Linked DNA regions of Homo sapiens: region 1 is linked to region 2. The links come from fine-mapping of genetic effects on gene expression. Tissue or cell type: monocytes. Region 2 holds a variant in brackets; the other region holds the start of a gene. All regions are shown on one strand. Distances are from middle to middle.

The links. PIP is the estimated chance that this variant, and not a neighbour inherited with it, causes the effect.
Region 1: it holds the start of LAMC1, and the variant in region 2 is fine-mapped to the expression of LAMC1 in monocytes (TOPMed, PIP 0.98).

What each region holds. Positions count from the first base shown.
Region 1 is chr1:183,020,063-183,028,187 of GRCh38, forward strand. LAMC1 (laminin subunit gamma 1) reads left to right here and starts at 3,358. Exons shown (of 28, transcript NM_002293.4): 1 at 3,358-4,072. The coding sequence starts at 3,655. RefSeq lists enhancers at 818-1,317, 2,055-2,610, 2,611-3,165, 3,721-4,274 and silencers at 2,677-3,066, 3,097-3,486, 3,537-3,606, 3,627-3,766.
Region 2 is chr1:183,130,148-183,138,147 of GRCh38, forward strand. LAMC1 (laminin subunit gamma 1) reads left to right here. Exons shown (of 28, transcript NM_002293.4): 19 at 197-402; 20 at 1,152-1,231; 21 at 2,253-2,390; 22 at 3,259-3,403; 23 at 4,513-4,662; 24 at 4,895-5,009; 25 at 6,239-6,438; 26 at 7,522-7,680. Among named protein-coding and RNA genes, the nearest start is that of LAMC1-AS1, 7.1 kb to the right of the region's middle. The variant T/A (reference allele first, on the strand shown) is at 4,371.

The DNA.
Region 1 (8,125 bases), 110 kb before region 2:
AACACCACACACATGGTATTCTATTTACCTAGCTTTGGGGGTATGCCAGGTGACCAAAGCCAAGCCAATCAACATCCTTCCTTGAAATTATTTATATAGATTATGAAGGGAGAAATCTCTTTTCTCTGGAGTTTCACATTTTTTTTCTTTAATTGGAGCTCTCTTGCCCATACAATAAACAATAAACAATTACATTTCCTCATCCTGCCTTTGTTGCTGCATAGAGACACTGATGATTGGGCACTAAGATCATCTTTTGAGGGACCTGAATAAAGTTTTCCCCATCCGTTCACATTTTTCTTCTAAGTACCATGTCTGGTAGATAATGAAACTCCCCTCCCCCTCCCCCTCCCCCCTCCATCCCTCCTTTTTCTCTCTGTCTTTCAGATAATAGAATTCCTCTCTCTTTCTTTCTTTCTTTTCTTTTTTTTTTTGAGACAGGTTCTCACTCTGTCGCCCAGGCTGGATGGAGTACAGTGGCGCAATCTCGCTCATTGCAACCTCTGCCTCCTGGGTTCAGGCAATTCTCCTGCCTCAGCCTCCCGAGTAGCTGGGATTACAGGCATGGACACAACGCCGGGATGATTTTTTTCCTTTGAGACAGAGTCTTGCTCTGTCGCCCAGGCTAGAGTGCAGTGGCGCGATCTTGGCTCACTGCAACCTCCGCCTCCCTGGTTCAAGGATTCTCCTGCCTCAGCTGCCCAAGTAGCTGGGATTACAGGCACGCGCCACCACGCCTAGCTAATTTTTTTATTTTTTTAGTAGAGTTGGGGTTTCACCATGTTGGCTAGGCTGGTCTAGAACTCTTTACTTCAAGTAATCCACCCGCCTCGGCCTTCCAAAGTGCTGGGATTACAGGCGTGAGCCAACGACCCCAGCCGGCCCGGCTAATTTTTGTAATTTTAGTAGTGTCAGGGTTTCACCATATTGGTTAGGCTGGTCTCGAACTCCTGGCCTCAAGTAATCCCCTGCCTCGGCTTCCCAAAGTGCTGGAATTACAGGCGTGAGCCACCGCGCCCGGCTGATAATGAAATGTCTAAGCACTTAAGAACGTGCATTCAAAAGACTGGAGTTTTTTGAAAAACAGGGTAACCTGCAGTAAAAGAAATTCTTACACACTTTCACTTTTTTTCTTTAAATACTGTCTAGTAGACTGTGGCATCTCTAGGTGGCTAAAATAATTTGTCGATAACATCAAACATCTGGTTAGTGTTCAAATTTCTCAAATTGTCTTAAAAATTTTGTTTTAACCGTTGATTTGTTTGAATCAAGATCCAAATAACGGAGCAAAATTTTTATCATCAAGCCCACTGGCTGGTTACACTTTACCTCTTTTCAAAATAGATGTTTGTCACTGTGACACATTTCCATAAGCAAGAGAATTGAGAGATTAATTCAAGGTCTCTTTATGTGCTTTACAAATATCAGATAAGCTCTGGTAATTAAGTTACGGAAAATTCGCATAAGTAATATCTTGATGTTAGTCTTGGACATTAGGACTCAAAAGGCAGCAATGACAAACCCATTTATGTTGATTTCACAGCCTTTGGGGGTCTCCTTGTCTTTATTTTGATTGTTGGAAATAGAGACCCACGCTTTGGCCACTATATAACAAAGTACTAAAAATGTATAATAATGCAAATTCACTAATATGTTTATTAAAATATAAACAAGTTTATTACAAATCTGTAGCTTTATTCACAACTAACATCCTTATTTTTGTCCTATATGCCCACGTTTGTCCTCAAGTACAACGAAGGACTGAGAGAGCATATAATCCCCTCTAGGTGTAAATGAACGTATTTATTTCGCTTCAACTCATGTATGAAAGGATTAAAAAATTATTAGTCCCCACAACTTAATTCTCCCAAAGAGAAGGTGCCAAGAATGAGGCACCTTTAGCCATGCATAATCTCCACCCATCTCATCAAATAAACGGAACAGTGATGAACATAACTTGCTAAGTAAGCTCAGCCGTGTAACAAGACCCTAGATTCCCCTCCCTTCTTCATCCTACCAGAACATTATCCTTAAGGTTTTCCTAATCAGCAGTCTGCGTCTAACTAACCCTAACTATCCAGAGTCACCTAACATATACTTATTTCCTTGTTTCAGATTCCCATTACGCCTATCTTAATGGGACAACTGGGTCCGAAATTATGCATGTGTTTTTTTGTTTTGTTTTTGCGGTGTACTTATTATCCGCACTTTATCATTAAATTCCTGAAAAGCTAGAACAAAACAAATCCGTGTCATTCACTATGTGCATCCTCTCTGCTTGGGGACGCCAAGGGTTTCAAGCTGCTGCCTCCCTGCCCTGGTCTCTGCTTGCCGTATCCAGCACTGGGTAAGCGCCCAGGTTCTGCTCCGGGACTAAAACTCATGATCTTCTGGCTCAGGTTCTGTGAACTGAGTCATTCTGGCACTGAGAATATTCCGTGACTCAGCAGGCCCGAAAAGGAGGATGTCAGAATCCACATAATTTCGAGTCTTTTAAAGGCAAGCCGAGGAACACAAACAACACAGTGGAAGAATTTCGCAGTGGGTCGTGCGTACCCAAGGGAAAAATTCATTCCATTCCCAGCCTTTTCACTTCCTTCCTTGCCCCGGTAAAACGACTGGTTACACTTTAAATCAGCGGCAGGAAATCGCTTCACGAAACTCATCTGGCTGCTGCGACCAGGCCCTTCTGATTCTCCAGGGACCGTGTCGGCCCCATGAACGCCCCGGGACCTCTGTTCGGGAGGGGCTGGAGCGGGGCCCCGGGCAGCAGCGGGCGCTCCCGGTTCGGACCCACACCTGGCCGGGCGGGGACCCTCTTGCCGCAGCCCAAATTGGCGCGAGGCCCCAGGGACGACCCCGAGCGACCTCCTGACCCGGCATCGCCCCTCTAAGGCGCCCTCCCCCGACTCCTCCCGCAATCCGGAGTCTCCCAGGCCGCGGAGCCCAAGGACCCCAGCGACTCCCGCGCGGGGAGCGGGTCTGCGAGGCCGCCCTTCCCTCCCGGCATGCACCACCCAGCCGCCCTCCCCTCCCCTCCTCTCCTCTCCCCTCCCCTCCTCTCCCCTCCTCTCCCCTCCCCTCCCCCAACCCCCTCCCCCGGCTCCCCGCCCACCTCGCGCGCCCCTCCCCCCGGGTCGCGCGCCGCGGGCCCGAGCGCGAGACGCCGCTGCTCCCGCCCCCGCCGCCTCCTGGAGTCGCCGGGGCGGACGCGCAGTCCATGGGGCGCGGTGGGCCGGGGAGTTGCCCCAGGGGCCGCGGGAGTTGCTGAGAGGAGACAGGGTTGGGCTTTCTCCTCGCCCAGACCCCACCCCACCCTGCCGACCCCACCCCCTGCTCCTTCCTCCCCGGGGGCGCGCACTCGGGCACGCGCTCGGAAGTCGGGGGTCGGCGCGGAGTGCAGGCTGCTCCCGGGGTAGGTGAGGGAAGCGCGGAGGCGGCGCGCGGGGGCAGTGGTCGGCGAGCAGCGCGGTCCTCGCTAGGGGCGCCCACCCGTCAGTCTCTCCGGCGCGAGCCGCCGCCACCGCCCGCGCCGGAGTCAGGCCCCTGGGCCCCCAGGCTCAAGCAGCGAAGCGGCCTCCGGGGGACGCCGCTAGGCGAGAGGAACGCGCCGGTGCCCTTGCCTTCGCCGTGACCCAGCGTGCGGGCGGCGGGATGAGAGGGAGCCATCGGGCCGCGCCGGCCCTGCGGCCCCGGGGGCGGCTCTGGCCCGTGCTGGCCGTGCTGGCGGCGGCCGCCGCGGCGGGCTGTGCCCAGGCAGCCATGGACGAGTGCACGGACGAGGGCGGGCGGCCGCAGCGCTGCATGCCCGAGTTCGTCAACGCCGCCTTCAACGTGACTGTGGTGGCCACCAACACGTGTGGGACTCCGCCCGAGGAATACTGTGTGCAGACCGGGGTGACCGGGGTCACCAAGTCCTGTCACCTGTGCGACGCCGGGCAGCCCCACCTGCAGCACGGGGCAGCCTTCCTGACCGACTACAACAACCAGGCCGACACCACCTGGTGGCAAAGCCAGACCATGCTGGCCGGGGTGCAGTACCCCAGCTCCATCAACCTCACGCTGCACCTGGGTAAGCGGTGACAGCCCCGTCCCCTGCTACTGCTCGCCAGCAGCCCAGCTCCCGGACCGGCTCCGTCCCAGTGGCCGGCCTCACGGGCGCAGACGGCCGCGTGTTTGCTCTCTGTTCCCCGGCATGGGCCACACAGAAACTCCTTTCTCCAACTTCTTAAATAGATACTGCTTTTAACATCCCGTGAGGGCCAGGATGTTCCGCACGAGTCTCTCTGCTTTCCTGTTCTTTCTGACTTAACGGGATTCTGGCTCTCTGATTATTCTGCATTTCGGCTGTTAGGATTGTGATTTCCCCCTTTTTTTTCTGAAGCGTTAATCAGAAACTCCCATCCCCACTTTTCTCTTTGCTAGCAAGGTCATCACAGCGCATTCTTGGATCGGAAACAAGAAGGTCCGCCTTAAACACTTTCGCCTTTAAAATGTTTAGATGTCCTTCCAGGGCTGAGGGTGATTGCTCTGTTGAGTTAAGGGGGAATTTGAGGGGAGCAAATGCCTTCGCTGCCTATATTGCCTATGTGTAATTAAAACATAAATTCACTTTTGAAGTTATTGTTCTTTATAGCTGCTCAGCCTTAATTAAGAACCACAAAGCGATTTGACTGCTAATCCTGGTGCAGAATGAACAAAAGGAAGTGCACTCACTGTAATTGCTGGGCATAGCCTTGTCCCTGGGTAAAAAGGCTCTCCTTTACTGTCTTCCCTTTTGCTTTCATTCAAAGCAACTGTAGAAACACGTGTAAGTGATGTTTCAGAAATCAGGAAAGGGATGTGTAGAAAACTTCATGGCAGGGCAGTGGATTGAGGATGGACATATGTATCTGGAAGCACCAAAAATAATGTTCGGTCTAGCTAAGGTTTTCTTCATCATTGAGATACGTAAATAGGCAGAAAGTTTCATTATTGTGTTTAACAGAGGAATCTATGTGTGAGAAACACGTTTGACTTAACACTTCACTCCCCATTGCCTTGGAAGGCTTGATTATTACCAGTAGCTGGTACTAATGAACTTCCAGAGAGAACAGACTGCCTCAAGCCATTCTTCTGTCAAGGGAGGGTAATTTTGTAAGGCTAATATCACTTAGGGGTGTTGGAAAGGAACATGTTGTAGGCAAATGGTTCTTTTGATCATGATTTTGCTGCTCTCCGGTACACTAAACTTTATGTAAGTATCAGGATTCCAGAGAAAGAATTGGACTTAACAAAAAGTACTTTGAAAAGTGGGATTAAATTATTGTGTGTGGAATAAGTGTTAGAAAAGCAGAATTATTTAACATCTTATTTGCAGTTGAGTCATTAAACAAATGAAACATTTTGAAAATAATTTCATAAAATGATACTATGAGGTATCTGTTTTTCAGGGATTGAAGAAGTAAAGTGCACTGAGTTCAGTTTTTTAAAGGTGCCTTTCTGAAGACATAGCTAGTGACCGAGGATTTCCTAAGATCTGTGAGATTGCTCTTTATTTTCTCCTGTTATATTTTTTAAGTTGGCCAAAATTATTTTTGAAATGTGTATCTAAGTATTTCTGTTTAACTTTTGACTTGTTAAAGTTTCTGTGTTCAAGTTTGAATACTCTTGAAGTCTTATTTTTTTCATTTTCAGATTTTAAAATTTTCAAAGAAAAGGCGTTGCCTGATGTCTGAAATCTCAGATGCCTGAAATTCAATTGACAATTACTGAACAACAGTCTCTTATTTACATAAAGGTGGGGTTGTCAATCTTGGCTCTCAGAATTTTCTCTTGTAGGCACTGTGTAGCTAAAGGTTATTTAAGGTGATTTCAGAGGTAGATAGATTACTCAGTGATTACTACCCTGTTGCAAAGATAATGCGGTAGAGTAACCCAGTATCAGTTACGTTAGATTGCTCCCACTGGGAGGCAGATATGTTAACTTTGGGTCATGGTTGATTAAAAGGTCAAAAGAGATCTTAGAGTTTACCTCTAACATCACTTTTTACTATGAAATGTTTTATGCTTGGACTTGGTTTTGCTGAAATTTTCCTCAACTTTTGGTAATATTCTTGCTAAATGAAATTCATAAAACTATGAGTTTAAAACTTGTAAGTTAAAAGTTAAAGTATTTTCTTACAAGCATTGTGATTAACTGTAAAAATATGTACTTTAAACTTCTAGTTTAAACTAACTTGACTAGGATACTTGACTTGTTCTTGGATCAGAAATGACATCCTGGAAGAAATCATGCATAGTGGAGGAGGTGGGAAGGGGGAAAGGTTTGTGTGTAGTGAGGTTGAGGTTTCTCTTTCTGTCCTCCCCCCCCCTTTAATGACAAGGTTATATGTATACATGTATGTTTCGATCAACAATTTATGACAAGTAGGCAAGGTGTCATGTGTCACTGTGTGTTTTGATGTTTAGCATATTCACTCCCCAACTCCAGTTACTCCATGGGCTGTAGCTAACTAATTATTTCCCATGAATTAAAGTACCGTGACTGTTTTGTGCATCTATTAAATCTCCCTCCCAGTTCAAATTTCACATACCCTTAAACAAGTGATGCATATTGTGCTTTGCTATTACAGAGCATGTGAAGCTAGAAATGAGTAGTGTGAAAGAACTAGGTCTAGCCACCACTTTTCTAGCCTTTCTTTTGATGTTGAACTTTAAATACAGTAAACTTTAAAATAAGCAGTCAAATCATACATAAGAAATGTAAGTAGTTATGTAAGTGTTTTGGCACTGACTTTTTTAAATTATGAAAATGAAACATGACATTGTAAATTCAAACAGTAAGTGTAATGACAAGTGAGTTTCTTTATCACTAGCTGCTAAGCTCCATGCCCTAGAGACCACCCTTCACAATTTCTTACATTAATATGACCCTCTAGAAATTTTTCATGCATACACATGTGTATATAAAATTATAGGATCATTTTAACTGATACTTTTTGGGAGGCTGAGGCGTATTTTAACAGATGGCAAATACAAATCTGATTATTGTGCCTGTATCATCACTTGCTGTACAAAAGCCAGGAAAATCAGTGTTGATTCTGAAAACAGCGCTCTCTTAAGCACCATACACAGTCATCCAGGGTGCAGGGTGCAGTGCATCCTCGGATAAAAAGAGTTAAAGTTGCTATGGGAACCAGAATTGCACTTTCTGCTTGTTGTGGGGAGAAATCTCCACCAGCCACTTTTCTAAGAAGAAGTCTTTTTTGTTTCACCTTCAACTTCTGGATGGATTATTCAGTTGCTGTTAAAAAGTTTGGGTTTTATGTCTTATAAGTTATAGTAAGTTTTTATCAGTACCAGTGGGGTAGTAGTTGATACTAAGATTGTAGCTAAGGATTTGCCTTTTATCAAACAGCCCCATTAATTAATTTGATAATCATTGTGGATGGAAACTTGGCAGACAGGATCCTAATCTTGAGAAAGGTAGCTTTTCCTCTTTCTAAAAACAATTAGATTAAGGAAAAGAGTGCTTATAAAACCAACCCAATCAAAGTTTATGAAACTCCTAAAATTAACACTGAAACCAGATTAGTTTCCAAGCTCCTCATAAACTGTAGGAACCAATAGTGATTAAATGAAGCTTTTAAATCTGCATCTGCATATCTTTTTTGTGTGTTTAAGTTAGAATAATTGATATATAAGGCTATTGCCTTTTATTCTCTTTGGTCCTCTGCTGAGTGTGTATGTATTTAACATGGAACAAATGGCAATTTTTCCCCCCAGGAAAACCTTTGCAAGGTGGGTTCTGACTATGTCAGGGAATAGCTCACTGTGGTGACTTCACTGTGGTATTTGTGCACCCTGAGGGGACACTATTTTAGTTTGTCTCACAAAGGCCTGATTTACATTTTGCAGGTTTCAACTTGAGAAGTTAAGGAGCTCTTCCTTAATGGCCAGCAGTTGTTGAACACAGTTTTATAAAGTTGCTGTTGGCTGCTTTCCTGTTCTACAGTTCACTGCTTTTTCTCCAAATTCCTTCTCCATTCTAAGGGCATTCAAAAAAGAATTTACACATTAGGGGAGAAGTTGGAGCTATAAGGCATTCCTCCCCCCCCCCACCTCTTCCATTTGTCATTGGTCA
Region 2 (8,000 bases):
GGAGGTGTGATGAGTGCACAGTGAAGGACCTACTGGGTGTGGTAAAGGCTGTCCAGCTATGGCAGGGGCTTTGTGGAAACCTGGCAGAAAGTTGCGATGTTTAGAAGAGTAGAGATACATAGGGCCTCAGATTTCATGTGAGATGATATGATCCTCTTCAGATAATTTACAGACTTTCTTCTGCAAACCATTTTAGATGTTGACCAGAATTTGATGGATCGCCTACAGAGAGTGAATAACACTCTGTCCAGCCAAATTAGCCGTTTACAGAATATCCGGAATACCATTGAAGAGACTGGAAACTTGGCTGAACAAGCGCGTGCCCATGTAGAGAACACAGAGCGGTTGATTGAAATCGCATCCAGAGAACTTGAGAAAGCAAAAGTCGCTGCTGCCAATGTGGTAAGTGATTGCAAACGTCTGAGGTGGGGATGGGGGAGGCCCCTGGGGTTTGTAGCAAGTCTGTTACTGGCAGTGGAGTGCTTCTTCAACTAAATTGACTCCATGCATCTTTTTATTTGTCCCTAAATATGGGGCAGAAAAGCCACATTGCTCATAGTTGGCATGAAACAGTTATTAAAAACTGGATAAAAACCAAGGGACATCTGGGTTATTTCTCTAGCTTTGTTCCTTCTATGGAACTAGGCAGTTTAATCTTCCTTTATCCTTTACTGAAAATAGAATCTGCAATCAAGGGTGCTGATATTAAATAAAGATCTCTGAAAATAAGAAGAGGTATTCTTGGGGCCAGGCGCGGTGGCTCACGCCTGTAATCCCAGCACTTTGGGAGGCCGAGGCGGGTGGATCACCTGAGGTCGAGAGTTCGAGACCAGCTTGACCAACATGGAGAAACCCCGTCTCTACTAAAAATACAAAATTAGCCGGGTATGGTGGTGCATGCCTGTAATCCCGGCTACTTGGGAGGCTAAGGCAGGAGAACCACTTGAACCCAGGAAGCAGAGGTTGCGGTGAACTGAAATTGTGCCATTGCCCTTCTGCCTGGGCAACAAGAGTGAAACTATCTCAAAAAAAAAAAAAAAAAAGGTAGAGGCATTCTTTTTGCCCTCTAACAAAAATTTAGTTTTGACTCTTGCTTTATTAAATGTAAATAATTCAGTCCTTTGAGAATAAGTGCTTTATTTCCTGTGCAGTCAGTCACTCAGCCAGAATCTACAGGGGACCCAAACAACATGACTCTTTTGGCAGAAGAGGCTCGAAAGCTTGCTGAACGGTAACTTCTAGATCCCTGTTTAATGGTTAAGTTGTGGCTTCTGTTATGGGGTGTGTGTGTGTGTGTGTGTGTGTGTGTGTGTATTGTCTTATCCCATAACCCATAAACACTTTCTACATAACCCACTTTTGCACACTTTGCTCTCTTTTCTAAGATATTATCAGCTGTGTATACTCTTTTCTTCCTTTTACTTTGACATTAGAATATTCACTTTGAATATTAGAATACAATGGTTTGAAGACAAATCATATTTATATTTCTCAAAACCATAATATTTTTAGATTTTTAACTTATTTAAGACTGTAGTAACTGAATGAAACTAGCAGATTGTTGTTAATAAAGATTAGGCATGGGATTTGTTTTTAACTAGGTAAATGATTTCTTGCTGGCATACACAATTTTATATGTACATTACTCTCAAATAATTAAATTTAAAAGTAGTTTTTCTGAAGAATTATAAACATTTTCTCTTATAAATGTATACCAATAATTTTTTTGGAAAATATTCTCATCTCAGTTTTAGAATGCTATTCATAAATTCAGCCCCACTGAAATGATCACAAAATTCCAAATGAATGACGTTTTCTAATATTTGTAGAATTGTTGCCCATGTTAGTATATGTACATATAATAAAGTAGGCCGGGAGCAGTGGCTCATGCCTGTAATCCCAGCACTTTGGGAGGCCAAGGCGGGTGGATCACCTAAGGTCAGGAGTTTGAGACCAGCCTGGCCAACATGGCGAAACCCATCTCTACTAAAGATGCATTAGCTGGGCATGGTGTGTATGCGTGTAATACCAGCTACTCAGGAGACTGAGGTAGGAGAATTGCTTGAACCGGGAGGCGGAGGTTGCAATAAGCCAAGATCACGCCACTGCACACCAGCCTGGGTGACAGAGCGAGACTCCATTTCAAATAATAATAATAATAATAATAATAATAAAGTAAGCATTACCTGAATTTTACTTATGTCCCTATCAGATGGTTGTTTCATGGCTTATTTTTTGTTTTATCTGTATAGTCATAAACAGGAAGCTGATGACATTGTTCGAGTGGCAAAGACAGCCAATGATACGTCAACTGAGGCATACAACCTGCTTCTGAGGACACTGGCAGGAGAAAATCAAACAGCATTTGAGATTGAAGAGCTTAATAGGAAGTGAGTATAATTTGAAAGTGGTTTACACCCCTTCAGGTGTTCTGGTAAGTAACACTAGTTCAATGAAAAATTAAATGCTGGTGCATTCAGGGCATACATTCATGCAGTAAGATTTCCTTTGTTAATCATGCTTTTGAAATGGAAAAGTAAGTAGAGAAGGGCATGTGAAGCCACAGAGATTTGGTTTGATTCAATTACTGTAACTACAGAGAATAGTAACAAGATGAGCCATGATACTTAAAATTGTGCACAAATAAAGAAGAAAAAATATAATAGAGTAAGTAGAGGAAACATAATTGAACTACAAATCTTTAAAGGGTGTCTGAAATAAGAAAGTATATGGTAAGCCATACATTATAGAAAATTTTTTCTTTTTTTTGTTGTTTTTGTGAGATGAAGTCTCACTCTTGTCCCCCAGGCTAAAGTGCAATGGCGCGATCTCGGCTCACTGCATCCTCTGCCTCCCGGGTTCAAGCGATTCTCCTGCCTCGGCCTCCTGAGTAGCTGGGATTACAGGTGCCTGCCACCACACCCAGCTAATTTTTGTATTTTCAGTAGAGACGGGGTTTCACTATGTTGGCCAGGCTGGTTTTGAACTCCTGACCTGAAGTGATCTGCTCACCTCAGCCTCCCAAAGTGCTGGGATTACAGGCGTGAGCCACTGTGCCCGGCCAAGCCATACATTATAAATAGAAATGATAAAAGAAAATGTAAATATGCAAAATGTTGGTATTAAAATGCAAGCATTTTAATGTAGCATTTCCTTTGAGGTTTTGGGCGTATTATCACATGATCATGTTAATCTGGTTAACATTAAGATGCTAAAAGCAGCTAAGATTGTCATTAAACCACATTATTTGTGTCTTAGGTATGAACAAGCGAAGAACATCTCACAGGATCTGGAAAAACAAGCTGCCCGAGTACATGAGGAGGCCAAAAGGGCCGGTGACAAAGCTGTGGAGATCTATGCCAGCGTGGCTCAGCTGAGCCCTTTGGACTCTGAGACACTGGAGGTATGGGGGCAGCCTGTACGCACAGCCCCACCCCGTCTCTCCCCCAAGTCTATGTGAGAGCCGACTGCTCTGCACCTCCCTCTGTCCTCCCACTGACTCGCTGGTAAAGTTGAGTCTTATTTCACATACGCTAATAGAACTTACCAAGGTAGCCAGATGTGGTGGCTCATGCCTGTAATGCCAACCCTGGGAGGCTGAGGTGGGAGGATTCCTTGAGGCCAGGAGTTCAAGACCAGCCTGGTCAACATAGTGAGACCCCATCTCTTAAAAAAACAAAAACAAAAACTTACCAAGGTAAAGAATCCTGTGATTGTAAACATTAAATAGCAAAGACTACTTTAATGATATGAACAATCACTCCTAAGTCTTTAGTGCAAATCCAAATTATAATAATACATTTGAATTGCTTAAAGCAGAGTACATGTAGACATTTACTCCCAGGCTCTGTCTAGTAGAGACCTAGAGAGAAATAAGAGAGAATGGTTTAATTAAAAGACTATAGCAGGATGTTCTGAGGCAGGTAAAATATTTTGGAATTGGTAGGATTTTATTTCATATCTGTACTCTTAATCATGGATTCTCACTCCAAGCTCTGTATAAATGGTATTTTTTTTGCATTAAGCTTGAGGTTTACTAAGTTTCACTTCTTATATCTGAGGTGTTGACTTGATTTTTACCATAAAGGTTTAGGTCTCTTTAGATATGTACAGATTGTCTGATTCTATATATTTATAATTAGAAAATAGGCAGAATTAGTCTATGATGATAAAAATCAGAACAATGGCAGGCACAGTGTTGGAAAGGTAGAGTAGAGATCGGGTGGAAAGGGAGAAAAGGGAGCTTCTTGGGTGATGGAAATCTGTATTTTGATTGGGGTGTTGGTTATGCAGAAATGCATTTGTCAAAACTCATCAAACTATATGTGGATTCTGTGAACTTCAGTGGGTGTAAAGTATATCTCATTTTT[T/A]AAAAAAGTCCATAAAATCTTGATCTGTGCAGTTCTTTTAAAAATATCATTGAGTATTAGGTGTTACAGAGTTCCTAAGCCTACCTTTTCATTAGTTTAAATGTTTTATCCAAAGTGTAGTGATCTTACTTGCTTTTCACAGAATGAAGCAAATAACATAAAGATGGAAGCTGAGAATCTGGAACAACTGATTGACCAGAAATTAAAAGATTATGAGGACCTCAGAGAAGATATGAGAGGGAAGGAACTTGAAGTCAAGAACCTTCTGGAGAAAGGCAAGACTGAACAGCAGGTTGGTTTGATTTGCAGGTCGCTTCATTTCTTGAGGCAACATTTGAACAGTCCAAATGGGTCTGTGATGATGCCGTACTTTCAGAGACAGCAGACCCCAGTGCTGAGAGAGCAGCCTAACAGATTTTATGCTGGCAAGTCTCAGGGTGGCACCTCTGGAGAGCCTTGTCTGTCCAGGAGACAGAAGGGATTTGCTTTGAGGGTTCATCCTCTCATCTGCCATGTGTTTGCAGACCGCAGACCAACTCCTAGCCCGAGCTGATGCTGCCAAGGCCCTCGCTGAAGAAGCTGCAAAGAAGGGACGGGATACCTTACAAGAAGCTAATGACATTCTCAACAACCTGAAAGGTAGAAAAGGCTGAGATAACAGGGGCAAATGCTTCCGCCACTAGAGTGATTTTTTTTTTTAATCATGACTTTTACCATATTTATTACTTCATCCCCAACTCCCTACTTTTTTTATGCTAAAGTATTTCAAAGGGAAATCCCAGAGCTCCTGTCATTTTATCCCTGCATACTTCAGTATGGATTTTTTTTTAAAGATGTTTTCTTATTAGGCAAACTCACATAACCAAGATGCCTATTTAGAGAACTTATATAGGTAAATGGAGATTATCTTTCATTTTCTCTGCCAGTGGCATCTGATTCTTTGTTGTTGTTTTTTTTTCTTCACCCCAGATAGAAGAGAAATGTGACCAATTCACTGAGCAACTGTGAATTCTTGTCTGATAAAACAGTCATAGGTTCTATAAATAGAGAAGCTTTACAGGATGCTTTACAGGGTACTAGTTGAAAATATGGGCCAGGCACGGTGGCCTGTAATCCCAACACTTCGGGAGGAAGGATCACTGGAGGCCAGGAGTTGAACACCAGTTCCTCACTGGGGAATATAGTGAGACCCCATCTCTATAAAAAAAAATTTTTTTTTTAATTAGCCGGGCATGCTGGCACATACCTGTAGTCCTAGCTACTTGAGAGGCTGAGGTGGGAGGATCCCTTGGGCTCAGGAGGTCAAGGCTGCACTAAGCAGTGATTGTGCCACTGCATTCCAGCCAGGGTGACAGAGTGAAACCTTGTCTCTCAAAAAAAAAAAAAAAAAAAGTAGTAGTTCAAAATATGGACTCTGGTGTCAGTGGGCCTTGGTTCAAAACCCTGCACCCTGCACCACAGGTCATGTAACTTCTTTAATCCTCAATTTTCTTATAAAAATGATACAGCCTATTTTATGTCAAAGACACAAAGCTCTTAACTCAGTACCCGACACACAGTAAACACTAAATAAATTGCAGCTTTTAATAATGGTTGAGGTAGTGGTAATGGGATGCTCAGCGCTCTGCATTTTAAAGCACATTGTTGAAGTAAGAATTCTATTTCCAGAAACGGAACATTTCTATAACACTAACTGGGAGACCTATTCTGTAGAGATGTGTAATTTCTAAAATTTCAGCCCATGCTCTCTTCCATTTTTTACCCTGACTTCCATTGTTCATAAAACAAAATCCAGTTGGAACTCCCTGAAAGGCCCCCTTTTTACTTGTTGGGAGTTTAGCTCAAATGTGTCCTTGAACTTGTTTCAGATTTTGATAGGCGTGTGAACGATAACAAGACGGCCGCAGAGGAGGCACTAAGGAAGATTCCTGCCATCAACCAGACCATCACTGAAGCCAATGAAAAGACCAGAGAAGCCCAGCAGGCCCTGGGCAGTGCTGCGGCGGATGCCACAGAGGCCAAGAACAAGGCCCATGAGGCGGAGAGGATCGCGAGCGCTGTCCAAAAGGTGTGCGTTTCCTCTTCTCCAAGAGTCCCTGCCCATATCTTTCTCTGGTCACTTTCCAGTTTCTTTCCAGACCCTCAGAGCCCTTGCAGATTTTTTTCCTGAACTTCAGTAAAATTGTCTTAAACCATATTTGTCTTTTTTTTTTTCTTTTGACTAGGCATGAGAGTAGGTATCCACATTGAGGAGGGGAACTCAGTAAAAGGGTGCTTTACTCTAAAATTTCTACTATGTCTCAGTGTGAGGTCTGGCTTCAGAGGTCTATAGAGCCCATTCCCACAAAAAATCAGACTTTTTCTAAATAAACATTCTTCTTTGACCTAGACAGGTGGTATTTATTTCAATACTATGTAGTGTGCCTTATCAATATAACTTTCAAGTCCCCCTTTCAAGTATATTGCCATATGTAAGCCACTCCTAGGAGAGACTTCCCATAGCTGCCATTGCTAGGATTCTTTGAAGTCATCTTCAAGAATAATGTTTTTTAGTTTGGCTTTCTCTTATTTCAAGGTCAATCTGTTTGTTTTATTTAAAAGAGAGATTGGAGCAATTTTAGAATTAGGTATTTAAGAATCAGAGAAACCTCTTAGTTTCCTTAGAACAGTTGGCTTTTGGATTAATTATATTTTATAAAATACTCATATTTCAGGATTGTGGTCTTTTTGTACATTATGATGAACTGCCAAGAATGAACCAAGCTAGCTTTGAATTTAAATTTTACCTCAGCGAAAGCATCTAATCAATATGATGTCGTAGAAAGTGTATGCCATTAAATGTTTATCATTTGCTGTCTGTATGACCCCAACTAAAAATAGCAATAATAGAACAGAAGTTTCCAGGATTAAAGAAGAGGATACAAATGAAAGTGCTAGATAAAATACAAAATGTTATTATGTGGGTAGTAATTTTTTTTATGATTATTTATAACCCAAATTGATAATGTAAGTCATGAGATAGTATAAATCAATATATTATTATTTCTGGATTATATTTTTAAGACATTTTATAAATTATAAAAGGAGCGGGAGCATACTTGAGAAAAAGGAAAGCTTTTTTAAAAAAAGTACAATTTTCTTTTGTGCCTAGAATGCCACCAGCACCAAGGCAGAAGCTGAAAGAACTTTTGCAGAAGTTACAGATCTGGATAATGAGGTGAACAATATGTTGAAGCAACTGCAGGAAGCAGAAAAAGAGCTAAAGAGAAAACAAGATGACGCTGACCAGGACATGATGATGGCAGGGATGGTAAGAGGTTTTGGTATATTTGCTCATTGGCAGAAAGTGAACAGTGTTTAATAATAAAGATCCCCCACTTGTTGAGAAGAGTCTTTTTTATATTGACTTCTGTTTTTCATCACATTGTCTCGTCAAGAATTGGGTTAGTAGCTTACATAGAAGACAAAGAATTTGGATCTTCTGCCAGGTAATTTTGTTGCACAATTGTCCTGTCCCAAAGTTACTCAGTTAAAAGTAAAACATTGCTTTACACGTTTGAGGTTTTAGGACATTAAAAGTATGTGTTTATATTTTTCACTGGGTAATTCATAAATGTTAATAAAAAAGGA